2 separate regions of the Homo sapiens genome follow, and region 1 is linked to region 2. The links come from fine-mapping of genetic effects on gene expression. Tissue or cell type: whole blood. Region 2 holds a variant in brackets; the other region holds the start of a gene. All regions are shown on one strand. Distances are from middle to middle.

Region 1 (10,785 bases), 110 kb before region 2:
GGGGTGCAGAAAGTTTGAGTTGCTCTGCCATGCACTTTTTATACTTAATACAGAATGTAAAGACTACTTAGCCATTTTGGACAGAGCTTTCTATACCTGTCTTAAAAACCCATCTGTTTTCCTATGTTACAAGGCATGTGTATATGGGTAATAGAAGCCAGTTTACCTGTAGAAATAAAATGGTCATATAGTTTTACTTTATAGGTCAGCTATTTTGAAAAAGAGCAATAACTGCAACTCTCTCAATATCAGCAGACAAGAGACACTGTGTGAGAGAGTATATGGAACCTTTGTAACATTGTGGATAAGTGAGGCAACTATTACCTCTATTTTCAAAGTTTAAAATACATCATGCAAAAGTTACAGGGCAACTGCTGACTTTGTAATCTGTGAAGCAAGTGTCTTACAGTGTTGGGAATCTCTGTTGATGCACTGGCCTCATCTCTGTTGAGAAGTGAAAACCGGATAACCTTAGTGGAGGAATCTGGCTCAGTTGGTGTTGAGATCAGAACTGTATTATAACTTGTAAATATGCTAGAAATGTAGACACACTTAGTGGGATGCTTTTTTTTTTTTTTTAAACAGTGGAGTAGAGGCATTTCGGCAGTGACATTATTAACAGCGTCATTTTTCTCATTTACTTTTGTCCTCAGGGGACACCAAATAGCTCCCAGAGGAGGAGAAAAAGGTCCAAGGTTATTTATTCATTTCAGTGCAAAGGGCTAGCAATGGGGGTGGGGAAACTAACCAGTTGTGAATTCTCTGGTGGGGAAAAAATTACTACCCTAATTTGACAGTAGTACGTTAAGGGCTGGGTATGATTTTGTTTTTTGTTTAAGAGTAGTAGACAGTAGTAGTAGTACTCAGTAGTAGTTTAAGAGCTGGGTAATTTGATTACCTGAGCTGGTAAAATTGATTTTGCAATTCTCATCAAGTACAGGCACTTTCAATACTTCTTGATTGTTTATATATGCATTTATGAGTGGATTTTTGGTGTTCCTCCTTGTGGATATAAATTTGTGTTTTCCAGACTACACATGTATGATTTTTGTGGTTCATTTGGAAAAAGGAAAGATCCCAGGGCATGGTGCAGTAGATACTTGCAGTTTTGCAGGCCTGCTTTCTGGGGTCAGGAGGTCATCTGTCTCTTTTGCATTTAGTTTTTAAATATTGATATTGGTGATGCAGCCAGGGTGTGTAGAATAGTTGAACCTTCTTGCAAACCACATGCAAGAGCCAAAAAAAAAAAAAAAAAAAAAAAAAGGCATCGAGTGTATTGGAAATGACAGCTTTGTTAAGTTCCAAGAAATCTTTCATGAAACTGCCCAGGATTTGCAACCTGTCGCTGCAATTTCTTTAGGAAGGAAAAGGTTAAAAGAAAAACAATATTAGATACTTGAGATGTCAAGCTCCTCTCTGGAGATCCGTAGTGAAAGGCTCAAATGTGGTAGCGTTGCTTATTTCAAATATACAACTGGGTTTTGAAAAATCCAGTGAGCTGAAGCACTGGCATTCTATTTAGAAATCAATAAACTTTCTGTTAGTTAGAAAGGAAACTTTTTTTTTTCCCTTATAAGGCAGCAAGGAGATCTAGGGAGGAGATCTTTAAGAATACTGAAATAACAGAGTTTCCTGTTGCTGAGAGAATCATTCACTTCTTTCTGCCTCCTCAGCCAGGTTTTGGGGTGAATGAAAGTGGCCTGTCACACCAGTGCTTTTAACCCTCTCAGTGTGGGAGGGAGAGATGAAGAGTTTAGGATTGGTAAGTACCAAAGTTTAAGAAGTGTTTGGCCCATTTTGATACTATCAGAAGCTTTTCAGAGATATTTCCACTCTTAATACCACGACACAGACGTGCTAGAAAAAATGGAAAGTGAATACAATGCAGGCACTTTCTCAGTTCCTCCTTCTACCTGGGATTTAAAAGATTGAGATTTTCAAACCAAAGGTGGTGGACAAGTGTTGTGTTAAGAGAAGCCAGGCATCCCATGCACCGAAATCCACCAGTCCCTCTTTCCAAACAACTCCCTAGAGTTCTTCCAGGGAAGGCCTGCAATGACCTTGGCATTGGCTGGACAAGAAGAAGTGTTTTGGGGGGTGTCAGCCATTCTCCACATGGCTGCAAGGCCTGAGAAGACAGTCAAAGCCATAGAAACTGAGCACCCCCATAAACCTTCTTTTTCAGGAAGTCTCTGTTGCTCACTCTTCATTCCTTTTTGGTTTTCCTCGCCTCACCATACTCCTATCTCATTTTCCTTTTTCTGGGAAACAAATCAAAACCAAAAACTATCAAGCATCCTCTATGGTCATCAAAGTGCAACCAGCCATAAGCACCCTCAAACGTGGGGCAATTGAAAGAGATTTGAACCCCTAAGTGATGGGCCTGGGAGGCCCCAGACGTCTTCACTTCTCTGGGGTCTTACCTGGATCTGACGCTGCTTCTTCGCCCTTGGTGTTGCTGAAGCTTTTGTGGGCTCTTCTGTGTAATACTTGTCAATTTTTCGTTTTTCTTTTTTAAGCTTGTGAAAAACTTTTGGATGCAACCTAGTTTTGGTGGCAGAAGGAAATGGTTTCTGTTGGGAAAGGGAAACTAATAAAGGGAGGAGGGGTAGCGATGTCGGGAGACACTTGCCCAGGGCTCAGCCCTGGGCCTCTTTTTGCCAGGGGACAACGGCTGGTTCTGGGCTCTCAGGCTGAAAGGAGTGCTCTCTGGGTGCCAGGATTTCACTGGGGGTGGTGTGGTGAGGAGGGAGGGAAGAAGGGAGGGAGGGAGAGAAGGAGAGATGGGCGCTCGATTTTTAAAGAGACCCCGAAATAATGGCTTCTATGAGAGTCCAGGCATTCAAAGAGGTGTGTTCAAGGATATTAGTGCATTCCTGCCAAGGGGAATGTCTTTTATGGTAAATTAACTCCAGTTAAATTGAATATTTGTTCAAAGGGAAACTGCAGTAGTTAAAGCTGGTATTATCAGTAGAGCTTCCCCACCCCCTCCCCTCAGAATCTGGTGAGGGTGAGAAAGGGGATGCAGTGTAATGTGCAATACAAAGTGATGCTTTCGTGCTGGTGGTTTCTCTGTGTGTGTGTGTCTGTGTGTGTTTAATCTAAGATGAGGTTGCCTAAAATTTCTGAGAGAAATGAGTATTTACTTGGATTAACCCTGTCACCTCATTTCTTTCATCCATAAAGACTGCCAACTTTATCCCAGCTTTTCAAAAAGAAGAAATGACCCGCACAAAGGAAATTAACGTTGTCAGAACGCTGACTCCAGGATTTGCCGGGGCAGGGGCGGGGACCGCAGGGAGGCCGCTCCCAGGGCGTGTGGCCGAAAGGGTTAACTCGCAGGGGTCCGCGCGATCTCCCCGACTTTACCTGTCTTCCTAGTCCCAGCAGCCCCCGTCCCCGGCCTCCCGAACTCCCCACCCCCCAGCGCCTTTCTTCTTTGGGCTCTGGGTTTACGGGGGCTGCAGCTGGTAAACTTGGCAAGCTCGCCTCATTAAGAGCGCTCTTTGAAAACGGACTGTGTTTGAGCATTTCCCTAATGAGGACAGGACGGGGTTAAAAAGTGACCATTTCATGGTTGACTTGAACCTGCCTACTTTTCTTGATGTGTCGTTGTGAAATGCTTGATGTGGATAACTCCCACTTGGTGAAGGAAAAAGTCACTGGTTCCTCCAGGTCCGCTGGGGGAGGGAAGAGGGGACGGTGGACAGAAACCAGAGGGAGTGAGAGGGGCTAAAGTTGAGGGGACAGATCACGAGCTGGGAAGCGGTGGAAAGAGGACCGGGGAATCGGGGGCGAGCCTCGAAACGCCCCAGCAGTACCCGTGGAAGCGGGGCGGCCCCGCCCTGGGGATGGGCCCGCGAGGACCCGGTAGCCCCAGCGCCCCCCGGATCCCCCAGCTAGGTAGACTCGGAGCCCCAGGCGCTCACTTTTCCTCCCTCCATTGTCTGGGAGGCCTTTGCTTCCCCCTCGTCCCCATCCACCCCAAGCAGAAAACTGGATTTGGGGGGCGGTGTGTGTATGTGGGCGGGGGGTGCAGAAAGGGTGCAAGGCGAACCGCCTTCTTCAAAATCCCTGGAATCAAGTTCATTCACTCGGAGCCTGCACGGGCGACGGGGTGGGGGCGGGGCAGCGCCGCGGTGGGGAGCCGGCGCGGGCGCCGAGCGGCTCAGGGCCCGCAGCCTCTGGAGGGCTGCAGCGGCGCGCGCGCGCCCGCCGGCCCGCCCCGCAGCCCCGGGCGCGCCGCGGCCCCGCCCCGCCTGCACCCGGGCGGGTAGGGAGACGCTTTCCGCCGGCGCCCCGGGCCCCGGGGGGTGGGGATTGGGAGCCAGCCAGCGGGGCTGCAGGAGGAGGAGGAGGAGAGCGAAGCCGGGCGCGGGGAGGAGGTGGAGGGAGCAAGAGGCGGCGGCGGCGGCTCGGCCCGGTCCTCCCGCTCAGAGCGAGGCCACGTGCACGGGGCACCCCCGGGGAGGGCGGCAAACCGCGGCGAAGCGCCGCGCGCCGCGACTGCCTCGGGTGCGGGCCCCTGGTGGGCAGACCCGGGACGAACCCGCACCCCCTCCCTATCCGCGAACCCGGGCTCCGGGCGGGGCCGTCGGGGGCTGGGCGCCGCACCCCCCTGGTCCACGCCGGCGCGCCCCAACTACTTGAGCCCAAGTTCGCTCAGGTCCCCGCCTGCTCGGCCTCCCCCTTTTCCCGGCAGCCGCAGGCTCCGCGGACTGAGCCCGCCCCGGGTGCGAGTGTCCGCGCCCCAGCCCCGGCCTGGGGGCGGCCTGGGTGTGAGGGAATTTTCCACTCGTTCCTTTCTCGGGCTCAGACGGTTTCGGTGCTTCTCCCACTCGGATGTTCCCGCGGCTTAAAAGAGTCCGCAGCGAGCACCGAAATACCTCTTCCAGGGCGGGTTTTCGGGGGTGTGTATGTGTGTGCTGGTGTGGGGAGGGCAGCGGAAAGAAGAGCTATTTTGGAAAAAAAAAAAAAGTCATGGTTCTGTAGCACCGGTAGGATACCTTTAACAAATGAGGGAGAGGTGGGGGGAGAGAAGGAGAAGGAGGAGGAGGAGGAAGGTGGGGGGGCGGGGGGTGTGGAGAGGCTGGTGCAAAAGGAATGCGCGTTTGCAGGAGGAGGAGTAAAGCGATGATTGTGTAATTAAATAATAAAACAATCCTTAAGTCTGATTTGGAGAGAGCTCGAGCGGGGTCCAGAGGGTGGAACCGGTGAATTTTTCAACTTCCAAGTTTTGCAACGAAAGAAAGCAAGAGAGGGAGGGAAAAAAAAGAGCCTAGAGCAGAAAAGAGAGGAGTTTGGAGCCGAGCGGGAGAGCGGGATTTATCGTTTGGAATTTTTCAGGAGATCGTTTTGATACCCCTGGGCTCTGGGCAGCGGCGGCAACAGCAGCCTCCACGCTCGGCCGGGTCAGACGCGGGGCGAGGCGGGCGGGCGGGCGGCCGGGCGCCGAAGACCCGGCGCGGGCGGCGGCGGCTGCTGCTGCCGGGGACCACGCGCCGCGAGCCTCTTCCGCCCCAGAGATCAGCGCTCGCGCCCCCTCCCTCACCCCGGCCTCTCCCTTCTCCCCCATCCCACCCCGCCCCCACCCCGGCCCTCTCCCGCGCGCGCCCCGCCACCCGCGCGCACTCGCTCACGCTGCCCCTCGCGCACACACATGGTCGGCTCGCGGCAAAGTTTCGCCTGCGATCACCACTCCGGGATCCTGCCGCAGTGCTTGGGGCTGTAACCTTGAACTTTCCCAGCGCGGTGACACATTCTCCCCGCTCTCCCTCCCGCCCGCCCGCTCGCCCTCCTGCGCCCTCCCGCGCCCCCCTCCCCGCCTTTTTTGAAAAAGCATTTTACCACCAACCACCACCCCAATCCAACCCACACCGAACCTTCGCGCACCCCCTACACCCCAACAACAACAACAACTGCAAAATAGAAAACAAATCCCCAAACCCAGGCGAAAAGCAGCCAACACCGGCGGCGGCGGCGGCCTCGGCAAGCACGGCCAGCGCGCTCGGACTGCAAGAGGGTTAAAAGTGTAGATTGGATTTCACCCCTGGAAATCTAGCACGCCGAGTGAACTTGAATCTTTGGCTATTTAAGGAGGACTGGGTTTGTTGTGAAGTTGCGGTGATCCAGCGCAGAGCCCCGTCCTGATTGATCGCATCGCGGGGCTCAGATGACTGTAAAATGAATAGATGAAATTCTTGCTTCTCGAAGATTTTCTTGGGCATCTCCCGGAAAGTGCGTTTTAAGGCGAAGTCATGATGTATTCTCCCATCTGTCTCACTCAGGTACATGTCTCGGTCGCTTTCTCGAGCTTTCTCTCTGGCCCGAAATGCCTTTGTTTTGTTTTGTTGCGGACAATTAGCGGCTTGAGTTAACCTCCGCACATCCCCGTCCCTTGGAGAAGTGGCCCGGAGTTGCAGCGGGCGTCGCGGGGCGGCGTGGGAGCCGGGAGCGGCCCCTCGCCACGGCCACTGCGAGCGCCCAGCCCCGCGCCCTGGGCACGGAGCGCGGGCGCTGGGCCGGGCAAGGCCGCCGGGGGGTGGGCAGGGCCGGGACCTGTAAGTGCGAGGCCCCGTGCGGCCCCTCAAGTGCCCGTTGTGGTGCGGCATCCCCGCCCGGGGTGCCCGTAGCCCCTCTCAGCAGCTCGCGCGTTGAGGTGGACTCGGGCTTTGGAGGACTTTACGGGGGACTAAGCTTTTAAAAACAGCCAGTGAACTTGGGCGAGGGGACTGTAGCACGAGTCTGTGTGGGCGCCGCTGGACTGCGCTGCAGGCGGTGGGCGGGCGACGAATCGAGTCGGAGGTTGTGGTCCGGGGACCCATTCCTTTGCTTTATTTGGGGATCTGAAACCCTGGTCCATAGTGACCTGCTGCACTTTGGGGTTTCTAGTGACCGCACCACAAAGGCAGTATTTACGTTGACACGAGTTAGTTGGTCTTGGTGATTGTTAAGGAGTTTTTAGAACGTGTTCCTTTTGTGGAAACCTGTTCATTTGACGATATTTGGGCGTAGCTCGTAAGGCATTTTAAGTAATGCTGGTAGAAGTAAGGTCATTTTTTTCGACTTTGAGAATTGTCCTAAGACCTTAGGAATAATGTTATGAAATAAAACACTGGTTTTATACTTTTTAGAAACACGATTTGTATCACTTTAAGCCAGACGGTCAAATAGAAAAGCGGCGAGACCCAACAGACTTACCTGGGGGCAGTTTTCATCGCTGCCCAGGGAACTAACAACTGACAAAGTAACTAAAATATCTTAGCCCAGAACTGTTATTTGAGGCAGTATTTTAAACCTCTAAAGGTATGGGGCAGCTTATTTCAGCTTTTCGGAAGATGTGTCACCATTGGTAATTGATAACTATTTTCTTTGACATTGCCATGAAAACTAGTCATATAAAGAAGTGTCAGCCAGTCTTGGGCGTGTTAAAATTTTAAAAACATCTAATATCACGATGATGCATTTTTATAATGGACAAATAATTAAGATTTCAATTGTATGACAATTAGAAGCCATTGTGATTCAAAAGGACTGAGGCATTCATAAATTGTGAATGAAGATGAAAACAATGATAAGGCTTATTCAGTGATTGGATACAGTCCTGTAGCTTTTTGGCTGACACATTTTTTATTGTTTATATTTTGTTTGGCATCTGAGTATGATTAACTTAGATATGGCTATTTTCAGCAAGTAAACACGCACTTTAATTTAACAAAACTGGAAAAATGAGTTGCTGAGCTATTTGTATTTTAAAAGCCATGAATGATAATAGCCAATAAATATGATGAAACTGTTTCAGGTATAACGAATTGCCTTTACTTGTAAAAGTTACCATTAATATTACCCATCGGCTGGATATATTTTTCTCTTTCTGATAAGCTGTGTTAACTTGATATTATTTTTACACCGTGATCAAATAAAACAAATCAAAGCAAGATTTTCACTTACAGAGTATAGCATCACTTATTCTCACCTGTAAAAGATTGAATAATTGTGCATTTCTCTATATTTCTAACATCAGCTTTTCAGAAACATTGCTAGCAATTACATTGCATTTTTAGTATCCTCCAAATATGTATTGAAAAGTCACTAGTTTTATCTTAATTTGTGTAAGTTAAAGATAATATTGCAGCATTGAGACAGGGAATGTTGGGATCATATACAGCATAATCATTCAGCTATCACATTAGTATTCAGAGATACACACTTAACAACAATAACTTGTGATGACTAATATTCTCTACTATTTTAATAATATAAATCTAGGCTTATGTATTAAAACAAGGCCTACACCAGGGAAGGAATTTCAGCTTAAGAATTTTCACTTCACTAAGCTCCATGTGACTTTGCAGGTAATATAGGTGTTATAAAAGTGAGGCCACATTAATAGTGTCACTTTTGTATCAGATCAGTAGTTTTGTATCACAAGAGCCTAGTAGCTGTAGAAAAACATGTCTCAGGACATGTAAATTGCAAAATAGAGTATCATTCTTAATTGGTTATAAACTTTTAAAAGTATCTCAATTGTTGCAATAAGGTATCTAGGTTTTAGAAAAAAAATCTTAATTTAAAAGGACCTACCATTAAATGTTATGTTTAGCAAAATAGTATGCTACAAAATCAGCATATCAATAACCAATATTTATACACCAGTATAAATCAGATATAAAGGAAAAATTAAGAACTATCATATGATTTAATATATGTTTAAAAATAATGTAAACCATTAATAATATAACTTTCAATTGGCATGATGGCATTAAATATATTTTTCTTTCGTTGCTTTTAAGTTCTTTAGGTACATTTTTTGCATGATTTGTTGTTATATAGCAATGCGCCAAGAGCACCTAGTATTTACTCTTCTACCTCTATGTTGGTCTAAATTATCCATCCCTTTCATGGAAACGGAAGAAAAATAAATATGCCTAGTGGAATTAAGACTCTTTATTTTTATATCTGAAATTGGTAACTTTGTTATTTACTTTGTCAATTTAGTTCAACTAAAGGAAGTTTTAAAAGAGAATTACTGAACATCAATGCATTTTACTAAAAATTCTGAAAGAGCAAAGTTGCCTATTACCTTTGTATACAGTTGTTTGGTTTTAAATCACTTATATGTTTTGCTTTTTTTAAAGAATTTATGATTGCTTAATGCTATTGTAATAATCCACTACTAGTTAGGATATTTGAAAACCTTAATCACCTTTTAAAAAAATATTTTTGTATCAGGACAGTTATTATGTTCCATATTCATGTCACTCATAATCTTTAAGACTCTAGTGTTACTCAGCATTAGGAAACAGTCACACTTGGGAGATGACATTTAGGCATGTTAATACAGAAATATATGCGACTTACAGCAAACCTCAATTTACAGTCATTTTTGGAGGATATGTCCCCTTGTCAAATAAGTGCTTCACTTGAATTCACATAATAGTGAAACCCTGAACGATATCAATAAGGCAAACTGGCAGCCTGAGAAAGTTTGCTACTTTTATTTCTCAAAAAAAAGAGCATGTTTTAAAACAATATTGGCAGCATTGACAGCAAAGTCAAAGGAACGTTTAAAAACTGTGTGCATTTGCTAAGAATTTTCAAATTCAACCTTCAAATTTGAATTTTGGTTGTTTAAAATAACTCATTAAAATTTTGAGCTTTCTTGTGTGATAGATTATATTTATAATCAAATATTGAAACTCAAATTTAATCAAAACTGTGTTTGATGTCTTTATAAGAAAATGAAATGTCACTGAACATAGTACTTAAGGTGTAAGTACTTACGTGTTACCACATGGCTTAATATTTATAAAATAATATTGCATTTTAAAAAGCATGGCAAGGGTAAAATGAGTGAGACAGAGCCCACCCACTCCACCTCATGTGCTCTTTACATTCTCAAGGTTTTAGTTTTGTGAGTGCATATATGTGTGTTTTTTAGTCATATCAATAAATCGTAGTAAAAGATTATAGGAAGTGAGTTTCCAAAGCACATTTAAGTCCACATTTCCTTGAGCAGGCTTTCCTTTTGCATATATTCCTAAAGGGGATAAACAAAGTTTTTGTAGTTACAGTGAAAGCTAAAAGCATGGCATCAGAAAGTGTATGGAGATAGGGAGGTCTTATCATGGGATGTGGTTGCTGTGAGCAGGGCTGCCTTCCCACACAAAGAACAGATTGTGGTTTAACTCTTTCCATGGCCTAGTTTAATGTGCTCGCATAGTAACTGAATTGTTCAAATCTCTGCTGGAAACTACTGATCGGTTTAATGATTTCCTCTATGGCATTTGGGTATGCCTCATGCTGTGATGTAATCATCAGCATTCTGTATTGTTATAAAATTTTGATTCATACTTATTCTGGTGAAGGAACACTTACAGCAATGTTAGAACACTTGATAACTACATTATTGATTGGATGGGACATGTACTCCTTCCATATCTGAAGTGCAAACAGCTAACATGTTGCAGTCTGTAGCATTAAAACTTCGAATTTCTTCTTCAAAATGTATTCATATCTATATTGGATTTTTGACACCTTCTTTGTTAAAGAGTCATTAGTTGTACTTTCATCATATTTACCTAATGGAATTAATTAGTCAGTCTGCTGTTAAATAGAATTTATTCCACGTAGTTCAGGGTGATTAACATGAGTATGTAAATTCTAACTTGGGATACAATCAGAGAGTTATTTTGTCGTTGGGCTGACAGTATAGTCAATATGATCAGAAAAGTGGTGGTGGTGGAAGTTCTCATTTGCTTCAAATCTTGGCTTATTGCGTACATG
Region 2 (10,785 bases):
TATCTTTCAGCAGAGGCAAGAATGTTGGATTCAGTTGAAGCTTAGATTACCAAACAGTAATCACTGCCAATGATGATTACAGGAGTACACCAGGCCTAATGTGTCTCTCAACCTGAGCTTAAACTTGCGGAACAGTCTCAAAGAAAAATCCACTGACCTCATTATGCAGTATTTGGCTGCTGTGAACATAGCCTGTTAGCTGGGATTTAAGTTTAACAGAGAAAAAAAGGACAGAGACAATATATACCTTGTGTATATATCGTACTTATGAAGGTGTACTTATGAAGTATTTTTAATTCTTCAAGTGTTTTTTATATTCCTACTATGAACAAATCAGTATGTATTTTTAGTTCCATGCAGTGTCTCCATCATTTCCTCCCTCCCACGTTTTCATTCCCCTTCCTTTCTTCTTTCCCTCCCTCCCACCCTGCTTTCCCTCCCCCTTCCTTCCTCCCTTCTTTTTTCCCCCTCCCCTCCCCTCCCTTCCTTCCAATTTTTGTTCCTTTGGTCAGCCCTTGGAACTCACTCACAGAGACTATGTATCTGATCTCGGTTTTTTTCAGTTTTATGCCACAGACATAGTTAATTCCTCAGATGTTTTTTGAAGGGAAATTTGTATTATTTTTATGTACAGAAAACTCAACAGTGTACATTTAACCCAGTTTGGTGGCAAGTTCTTTAGCTTTTGCCTTTTGAGCTTGGCAATGTAAGCCACAGGCTTGGGACCCAGGACATTGCCTCCCCAGTGATGACGGATCTCATTGGCTCTGTCGTTGTAATTGGTTCTGATAGCTACCACCAGCTTAACCAAAGCCCCTTTGTCTTCTGAGTTAACCTGTATGAAGGCAGCAGTGGTGCAGGTCTTCCTGTGGATTAGATGTCCCAGTCTTGTCTTCCCCTTGATATTGCAGTAAGGGACCCCCATTTTACGACACAGGGCAGGCAGGAACACAACCAGCTCGATGGGATCCATGTTGTATGCAATCACCACCAACTGAGCTTTCTTATTCTACACCAAGGTGGTGATGGTGTTAACTCCTGCTTGAAGGACAGGTGTTCTTAGTGGGGAGGTCCCCTTTGCCGGCGCTTTCTTCTCCGCCCGGGCCAACAGCCTCTGCTTCTTCTCTTGCTTTGTCTCTGGTCTGTACTTGTGGGGCAGCTTAAGCAGCTGAGTAGCTGTTTGGTGGTCCAGGTCCTGGGTGAACTGGTTAATCGCAGGAGGCATTTTCAGTCGCTTATAGAGGATGACTCTCTGCCGCTGCAACCTGCTATAGCGGGGCCATTTCACAAAGCGGGCGAGGTCTCTTTTGGGCTGGATGTCCTGTCTAATGCCAAAATTCTTAGGCCTTTTCTCAAACAGGGGGTTGACCACTTTCTTGGCCTCCTGCTTCTTCAAGACAGCAGGGGCCGGAGCCACCTTCTTCCCCTTGGCCTTCTTTCCTTTCCACATCTTGGGCAGTGGACGGCGGGAAAAGAGAGATCATTCCTCAAATTTTGAGGCCTGTGCCATAGAAAGGTATGAAAAGGTTTTCTTTTGTTAATGTTATTTTAATGTTGTAAGACAAACATAGCCTGTTAAAGGATGAGAAGAAAACAAATTAATTTTTTGGTTTTCATTTTTCATACACGTATGCTTTGATAGAGATTATAAGTTTATGTCAAAATCATGCCATTGCAAATGGGAAAGTGTTGGCTTTGCTTATGCTTCTCTGTAGTATGTTTTAATATGGTCAGAATTTGTTGAGGTTTTTTTTAACATTTTTTTTTCCCCACAAATTAAATGAGTTTCTTTAATCAGCAGAAAATATTGCGGGCATTATGTGTGATTGAAATGTTGAGGTCAGCAGAATTTCGTAAAAGACCCCTTGTCACCATTTTCTATCTGGTAGTATTCCAATATTCCTTTGTAGTTAGTTTTTCAAGCAGCTTTAACTACTGCAACACAAAAGTTGTGGTACCAAGTCTTATTTATGAGGGAAATACACATTTTGACTTCCTGTGAGACAGACTTTAGACCCTGCCTTGGTAGCAGGGTTGGCCTTTGCCCTTGGTGAGGCGGGCCCAGGCCGGCGACATTTCAGGAGGCCGCTTGGCAGCCATTTTAGATCCTGCCCGCGCGGAGAGCTCCTGGCTGCCAAAAACTGCAGTCGCTCCGTGCCAAGACACTCTTGGCAGTGGAGATAAACTTTGTAGAGATACACAGTCCAGAAATATCTTATAATTACAAAGCACAGGGGGCAGAATGTTTTTACAATACAGCTGTGCTAATGTAAACATTTAATTTGGCAGCCTTCTCCACCCACTTTTCAATTAACCGGGTTTATGCAGATACTTTAGGTCTGTAATAAACTTTATTGCTAAGAGTACAGTTTATGAAACACAGATTTGAGGGGCTTTTTTGAGGGGTTTTCCATCCATTTAGGAAAGCACATTGTGAATGTTATGTTGCCGTGAATGGAAAGGGTAGCTTTCTGTCTCAAAAGATGCCATGGGCCTGGCTTAACTGAAACAATTGCTTTAGGAAAAAAAAAATGTGGGGGCTGTCTCCTTTGGCTTCTAAAGCATGCAAGAGGATATTAATAGAAGGAGGTAAAAATCACTTATATAGCTACAAAAAGACACTCGTGTTGATGATCATTCAAAAAGATAAATGTCCCCTGCAAGGCATGAGACTGTTTCAGAGATAAATTCCCAGTAACAGTTCTTACAGATGTAATTGTAATAATTGTGTGATCGCCATGATAATTATTCTTATGGAGTGAAAGAAATAATTTTCTATGTAAGTAGCATTCAACTGTTCAGCTCACAAAGCTAGTCAATAGATCGTTTTCAGCTAACCTAAAAAATGGTAGAGTTCATGGAGTTGTAAAGCTAAATTTGGTATTAATTGACATTGTGAAGGTGATTTTTTTCATAAGAAATATGACATCACAATCCATGATATCTCTTTGCATAGATTTGCTTACCCATTTCTCAGATACGTTAGAGAAAACCATATAAAATACTACACATATGGGTCGTTTTTCTAAAAGACAAGAAACGTAGAACCGATATTTTTATGTCATTCCATTTAGAAACTTTGCTTTGGTGATGATTTTTTTAAATTAGCTTTTGTTTTTTCTTGAGGATGGGTTTGAGTAGCAGAAAACCAATTCTTAACGATGTTTTCTCTCAGTACTCCTTTTGAGACTTTCATGTAGTGTGGCTCCATCAATATTCTATAATGGGATGTGACCACAAAGTAATTTTCATCCTAAAATAGTATTTGACTCTTCAGCTCCCGAACTAGTCAGTAGACCCCTTTCATCTATTCTGAAAGATAATGGAAGTCGGAGAATTTTAAAACTGTGGTCTCATTATTTTATAGTCTCATTATTTCATGCTGCAATAGCTGTTGTGCCATCATACCACCTTTACACATTCTGCTTATCACAGCTAAACAATGCTTTTGCAGTCTGTGGCTTTTAGTCTCTCATGTTTTAGTTGCTATAAACAAAAATTAAATGAAAAAGTTTGTCCCACTGCTAAATCTTTGTGTGTGTGTGTGTGTGTGTGTGTGTGTGTGTGTGAAAAGTATCAATTTTATCTTCAAAATATAATGATTACAGATTCTGCTTATTTGTAAATTGTATAGAGAGCACATTTTACCTGCTAGCAAGTGAATGAAAGTCAACATTGTGCAAATGAAACCATAAGCTCCATGAAGACAAGAACAAATCATCTTTTATTGACTGTTGTAGACTGAGTTCCAAGGATGATACATGGACCACTGTAGGTGTTCAGTCCTTTTCAAAAAAATAAACGAATGGATAAATATCATCTGTATATGTCACAATCAGAATATTGAATGTTAATTACCTGTATAAATTGATAGCTCATTATGACTTTTTTTTTTTAAGGTTACTTTGTCTTTCTTTTGGGAATTAATGCTCTTTGTCTCAGTTTCTTCATGGATAGTACATCCAAGATAAATTTGTATGCCATTTAAATAGATTCCCAAAATTATTCAGGGTAAGTTGGGATACAGGAGGTCACAATCTTGGAGAGAAGTAATGTATAAACAACCAACTATAATGCACTGGTCGGGCCCTGCACTAAAGTGTGAGCAAGACCATGTGGGCCCCAGAGGGTGGTCTCATTAGATGGGGCAATAAGGTTCAGGAAGGTTGTAACAGACGAAATTCAAGAGCTTTTAAAGATGAATTAGGCGTTTGTCTTGCATCAAATAAGGGATATTCCAGGCATAGAAACCTTATGAGCAAGGGCACAGACCTGCAGTTGCACGGCATATTCTAGGACTGTTAAGAAGAATATTAGGAAGTTGGGTGTGGGTGTGAGGGGGAGGGTAAAGGGTGATGGTTTCTGTGAGAGTGAGGCTAGGCTGGGGCCAGGTTATGGAGCACCTTGAATGCTGTACTAAGGAGGTTGTAGATTATCCTAGCTAGCAATTGGAAGCCACCAAGGTGTTTTAAGGAGTGAAGTGTTGTGATTCCTGGTGGCTATGCAGAGGATGGAGTCTGGTTATAGTGTGAAGAGTGAATCATAATGGCCTGAGGAGGCTGAGGCTATTGTGAGGTAAAAATGTGAAGCTCAATAAGGGACTTAGCACCAGTTGGGATGGAGATGGGGAAATAGGCTTGAAAGGAAGATAGAGTCTGGGCTGACAACTGAATGTGAAGCTTTGGGGAGTTGGGGTTTCTGGAATGAGCATTTTCAGCTTGGGAAACTGAATGGCTGTGAATGCCATTAATTGAGATATGGATTGGTTGCGGGGAGGCAAGAGTGTACAAAGGTTGTGCACTAGCAACATCAGGAGGAGTTTTGCAGTTAAAGAAGAGGTTAGGGCTAGATATGGAGATACAGAGTTCTCAAAAAACGGGTAGTATTTGTAAACATGGACCTAGCTGAGTTTGCTGAGGGGGAATGTACAAAGACAAGAAGATGGCCAAGTTGGATGGATCGTCTTTGGGATCACCAACATATAAGGGACCAACAGAAGAGAAGGAGATAGCCATCAAGACAGGAAAGCAGCCCTCAGAAATAGAGGATTGGACCTAAGAAAGGAGTGGTGCCCTAAAGGAAAAGGGAAGGAGAATTTCCAAAAGCTAGGGATACTTAGTGTGAAAAGTCAACTAAGTAGAGTCTGGGAAAGTCAAGTCGTGTTTTAAAAAAAATAGTAATTTTGGAGCTGAAACACATACTTAGACTTACCGATCCTGAGAGCTAGTGTTGGGCATGAGGATTATTATTTTCTTATCTCACATCGTGATCAGAGAGTATGTGAGTTTTGGTATTGTGTTTTATTCCTTGGTCTAACTTCACTGAAACAGATTCTGGGGTCCTGGGTTGCTTAAAGGATGAATATTCTGTAGACTTTAAGAAACTTCTGATGAAAACAGTGGATTATGTTTATTGTAATCTTTCTCTTCTACCAGTTCTGAGAGGAAATTTGCATTTTCTTCATCAAATTTCACCATTGACTACTATATTTTAAGGAGGAGAAGCTAATTTGAAATTTTGCTTTGAGTTTTGAAGAAGGCATGAACAGTTTCACAGAAAATAGAAGGAAATATGCCCAACTACTGAGCACACCCCTTTAAATTGCTCTTACCAGGCCTTCAGACCTAGGGGCAAAATTATGCTCCAGGCTCCAGGTCCCTGGATTCACTCTGTTAGCAGCAGCAGTAAGGAACAGTTTATTTGGACAATCCCTTCTGCTCCTGTTCTCCCTGCGTGATTCCCTATTTTAGCTGTAAAAGACTCAGAAAGTGGTGATTTTATGCTAGTACATACAGAAATACCTTAGCAAATATGATTGAGCCAACTAATGTGTAAGTAAAAACAATAGCTGAGTGGAAACTGGGTGCAACTCTGCAGTCTCCTTGGATATCTTCAGGAGTTTTGTGAAATTAAAAAAAAAATGGATCCTGGATCCTCCAATGAACTGAAGTCATAATCAGTCTGCAATGTTGACTTGAGAATTTCTTTTAAATAAAAATAAATGACCAAGTGGAAGTCTTATTAGCTAAAACCAAAAGCACAAACATACATGGCCCTTTCACAAAGTAAAACGGCTATAAGCATAATGAGACTCCAACACATCTTTACTTTTTTTGCTGTTTTGTTTTTAATTTTTCCAGCTCTTAACATTCTAAGATGCTGCCTTACCACTTCCTTAAGGAAACACAAATGGGTGAGTTAAGTTTTTGAAAGTAAAGGAGGATCCTGTTTAAGTAGATTAGGGTCTGGCAGGCCATTTAACTTTATCAGGCAT[C/T]TAAAGCCGAGGATGTACACTGTAGCCGGCTGTGAGTTGCCAATTAGCTGGGCTTTCCCCACTGTTTCTGGTTTGGCAGGGATGAGGTGGTTCACCCTGCCGCACTACTGCCTGCCAAGGACACATGGCCAGCTCCCGGCTTCCTGTCTTCCTCTTTGTGTCCTGGCCTTGCCTTCCAGGGAGCTGCCAGAACACAATTGCCAAAAAATCTTCCTTCAGAAAGGTCAAGTAACCTCAAGTCACCTATGCCAATATTTGTGTTTTCTTTTTAATCCTTCTGTGTTCGACTTGGAAAAAGCTGTAGAAGCGAACTTGCAGAATGGAACCTGGGTCACTTTGGATCACTTGGATAAAGCAACAGAACCCAAAGAATCCCTTGGCCAGTCAGGGTGTGATGTTTTGAGTAGAATTCTATTTAAAGCTCTGTGAAGTGTGATAGAGTTCAGAATGGTTCAGTGTGGATTTGGATTTAGTTGCTTTTTAGGATTCACTGTACACATGTGATTTTTGGCCAAAGCTGGTGCATCACATGGCAGGGAGAGGGAGAAAAGTGGAGATTGGTTTTGGCTTAAGGACTGCATTTTTGTTTGTTTGTGTTTTCAGGACTCTATAGTCACATACTGCCTTTTGCTTTCCAGTTTGGTGTCTGTGAGCAAGCATCAGCAGCCAAGTCCCTTGTACACTGGCTGAGAACAATGTGCGGGAGTTACCTGGGGTGCTTGTTGAGAGCGCTTTCTTGGCCCCAGCATTGCTGTACGAGTCCCAGTCATTGCGGGTGAGGTCGAGGAATCTGAATTTCTAACAAGCATCTCAGGTGAATCTGATGCTCACTAGAATTTGTGGACTGAATGTCACTGATTGTGAAATGACAATAAGGCAAGTAGCATTTATTGTCATGATACGGCAAGCTGTTCTACTTCTCCTTTAATTGGTCTTTTTGGAGCTCTGTGTTTAATTGGAATCTAGATTATATGCAGATCTCCACTGACAACAAACACTTTTCTGAAAATTGAACTTTTAAAAACCTGTTAACATAAGAAACTTTATCCAAGTAATTGTTCCAGGTTTAAACTCTAAATTTTAGGATGATTTATAAGGCTTTTTTAATGACACGTAGAATGCCATAGTGAACATCCGAAACGACTTTAGAAGGCTCCCTCCCCGTAGCCCACACTGTGAATCATGCTCCTTGGAGACGTGCAGTGTGATGGGCCTAGTGATTTCTGTTATGGAAGGGAAACCCCATTTCTCTAATACTTCATAAAGCAAAGCTTTTATTATTTACTTTGAAAAAATTCCATTTGAGGAATATGGAATTCTTAAAGTGCCTAAACCTGAGCCACCTACTAATTCTTATGGCTGTTGGTAATGAATATAGGGGGCAACGTGTATTCTGTCTGTAGACTCCAGGAAAGTTCAACGTAGCCCCAACATTCCCTTTTGGCTTTTCATGTAAAATTGTCCATAGCACTTTCTTCCTAAGCTCAGTTTAATTTTCTTTTGTGCCTTTTGTACCTCGAGATATGCTGTCTTTCTTGGTGAGAATGGTCTAGCCGTGAACCTTTTCGTCATTGTTTTGTAGCATTCGTAGAGTGAGGACCAGATTAACTGTGTAATTTACCTTTTTTTTCCCCAAGTTATTTCCAAAATTTGCTAAAGCGCTGCAGCCTCAGGGACACCTCTGACTTTCTGACACAGCTAAGAAACACCACACTAATTTGGAACACATGTTCTGTCAAAGTTTACCTATAGCCTTGAGTTCCAAATTTGCAACTTCAGCATCTTCTGTTGAAAATAAACAGCATATTTTTTCTTAAGCTCCCTTTTTGCCTCCCCTTGAACTCCACAGTCTTTTATAAATAGTAATAAGGAAATGTGGTTATGGGTATAATTGCCACAAGGCAATTGTACCCTAGAGGACTGATAGAATTTTCTTTTCTATATCGGAGGGCTGGGCTCCATCAAGAAGATCCATTTGCAAATAACTCAATTGGAAGAATAACAACAGTGTCTTTATTTTTATAGCAACTTTCCCTATAGAGATCACAGTACAGTGTGTTAGGGACATCCTATCAGATTCATTGTTCTAATACCCCAGTGGACTGGAATAAAGTTTTATTATAGCTTGTTTGAGACAGGAGAGTGAGACTGAGAAAGGTTAAGGGTCGTCCCTCAGATCCTAAGAAAGTCAGAAGGGGAAATGCAATGAAAAATCAAGGTTTTTCTATTACTCTGCAAGTTGTCAAGCTCTGCATTCCTTTCTGGTAATTGTAAAGGGTCAGAATAAAGCACAACCTATTTCGGGATTGCAAAGTAATGTAGATGAAAATGCCTCGAAAATAGCTAAGGTATTCTTGCTATCTTTATCATATTTAGTACAAATGGAAGGTAAGAAAGAGCCTTATTGTCAGTATCTAATTGTACCAATGTATATGAAATGGATTTTGCACATTCTTGATTGATTGGATTCAAACTGCCAAGTTGTCTTAATCATTAATAAAAGACAAATGGAAAATAACATTTATAATTCTGGATTTAAAGGAATTCCATACGATTTGACAACAAATTTTGAACAGATTAAGAAGCCAAAGATCAAAGTTACTCTGATTACATAAACGGCCTAAGAAAACACTTAATTAAGTAGTCTGATTTTTCTTTTTAAGGTTTTACTTGTAGACTCCATAGTTCTGAGGGTAGGAGTGATGAACTTAGGCTCTGTTTTTTTTTTTTTTTTTAAGTTAGAATAAGAGAATTGGGAGTAAAATTACTACTAATCTTTCAACCTGATTTCAAGGAGCCTTGGAGGACACATTCTGTGGGGAGTAGACACAATTAACTTGATGCTCCTAATTACTGTTGTTTGATTTGTGATTAAAGGTGGTATATTTTGGTGTAGCGCTTTTGGCTTCTCAGGTGTCCAGTGTGCTGCTGCTGGGGAGAGTAGGGGGTGGCAGCATTCCCTCCCTTAAACAGGAACCCCCTTCCGCAAACTAGAAGCTGAGATATCAGAAATAACCCACATTTAGTCAGACCTTGCCTTCTAATGAGAAAAAGTGAAAAATTAGGCAAAACATAAACACACGGCTTTTTAAAGCTCTCTTTGATTTTCAAAGTTCTAGAGTGGGTTCATATTTTTTCACTTTAACCCAAGCGAGTGAAGCTATCTTTCACTTATAGATCCTCCCTGAGTGCCTCATGGGAGGAGTAATGGCCTTGAGACTTTTATCTCATCATCACTGCACCTCTTGTTATGTCTTGATGCTTAATGAATGTTAAGCTGAAAACTAATCCAGGTAAACAGGTGAACGGAAAATTAAGTTCAACCAGCGTGAACATAGAAAAAAAAAATCCTTCATTTAGGAGCACCATTAGCACTGCCAATGGACTAAGGAGACACATGCTGTTCCCTACCAGGTGATTGGATCATATCAGCTAATTTATTCTATTTTTAATAATTGCTGGATGATATTAATAGGGAACTTTCAGTTATTATTTTATTATTATGCATTTTCTTTTGCAAAAAAAAAAGTTTAAAAAACATTTTCTTAAATACCCCACCCCCTTTTTCCTCCCAATGCCCTTACTAGATTCCTTTGTCTATGTTTGCAATGTCATTGTGTTTTTCATGGTGTGACATACATACCCTTAATGCCATAAAAGATTCCTGCTCTGTGAAAAGAAAGTTGAACAGTGTTGTCACTTTGAAAACACAGTGATAGCTTTGAATGGGAGTCTAATGTGAGGAGGAAGCTTTGGCTTTGGGATCCAGATTGCTGTAGCCAAACTTCCAAATTCAGATTTGGTCTGCAATCCTGGCTTCACTGCAGTCATTTATATCGACAGTGAATAAAGAAACCTAAATAAACAAGAATGAAGTGGCAACACAATAAAAGTCGTCTCATATGTGCTTTATACTTTCAAATAAAAATTAGAATTTATCATTTTCTTTGAGATTATTTCTCTGTTTCGTGTGCTCACAAAATTAGCTTGATGTTTTAACCCATCTTTATTTCATTAAAGTATTCCTTAGATATGGAGTTTTCTAAAAAATACAATATTTTGTCAATAAGATGGAAAATGACAAGCATTATTTCCTAAAAGCACCACAGGAGAGAGAAGCATTGTGCATTTATTAGGTAGTGACAGAGCTTTGCAGATGGATGAAGGAAGCTGTAACATCAAACCTTGCCATCTCTGGCGGTTTAAATTCTCTGTAGGTCAGTTCTACCAAAAGTTTTTTGTTTTTTGTTTTTTTTTAACTTCTTTTGCCAGTTGATTGGTCCTATGAAGTAAATTAATGGTTTCAGTTCAATTCTTGGGCACATAACCACCCCAGTTAGCATTCTCTGGGGACCTTATTGGCTTAAGCAAGCCTAGAAGAATAGGATTTCCTTCCAGGGTCAGGTATAGAACATTGTGGAGAAGCTTACGGGATCTCTTTCTCTTTTGTGAAAGAGAGAGAGAGAGAGAATGTGTGCTGGATTGAGGTGGTAGAGTGCACCTCCAATATT

Evidence for each region. PIP is the estimated chance that this variant, and not a neighbour inherited with it, causes the effect.
Region 1: NFIB starts here. The variant in region 2 is fine-mapped to the expression of NFIB in whole blood (INTERVAL, PIP above 0.99).

The regions. Positions count from the first base shown.
Region 1 is chr9:14,308,984-14,319,768 of GRCh38, reverse strand. It overlaps NFIB (nuclear factor I B), which reads left to right and starts at 5,628. Exons shown (of 11, transcript NM_001190737.2): 1 at 5,628-6,287. The coding sequence starts at 6,258. It overlaps NFIB-AS1 (NFIB antisense RNA 1), which reads right to left and starts at 2,682. Exons shown (of 2, transcript NR_186536.1): 1 at 2,424-2,682. RefSeq lists a silencer at 5,925-6,219.
Region 2 is chr9:14,194,913-14,205,697 of GRCh38, reverse strand. All of the region lies in intron 2 of NFIB (nuclear factor I B), which reads left to right. It also overlaps the pseudogene RPL7AP47. Among named protein-coding and RNA genes, the nearest start is that of NFIB, 110 kb to the left of the region's middle. RefSeq lists an enhancer at 711-1,210. The variant C/T (reference allele first, on the strand shown) is at 6,275.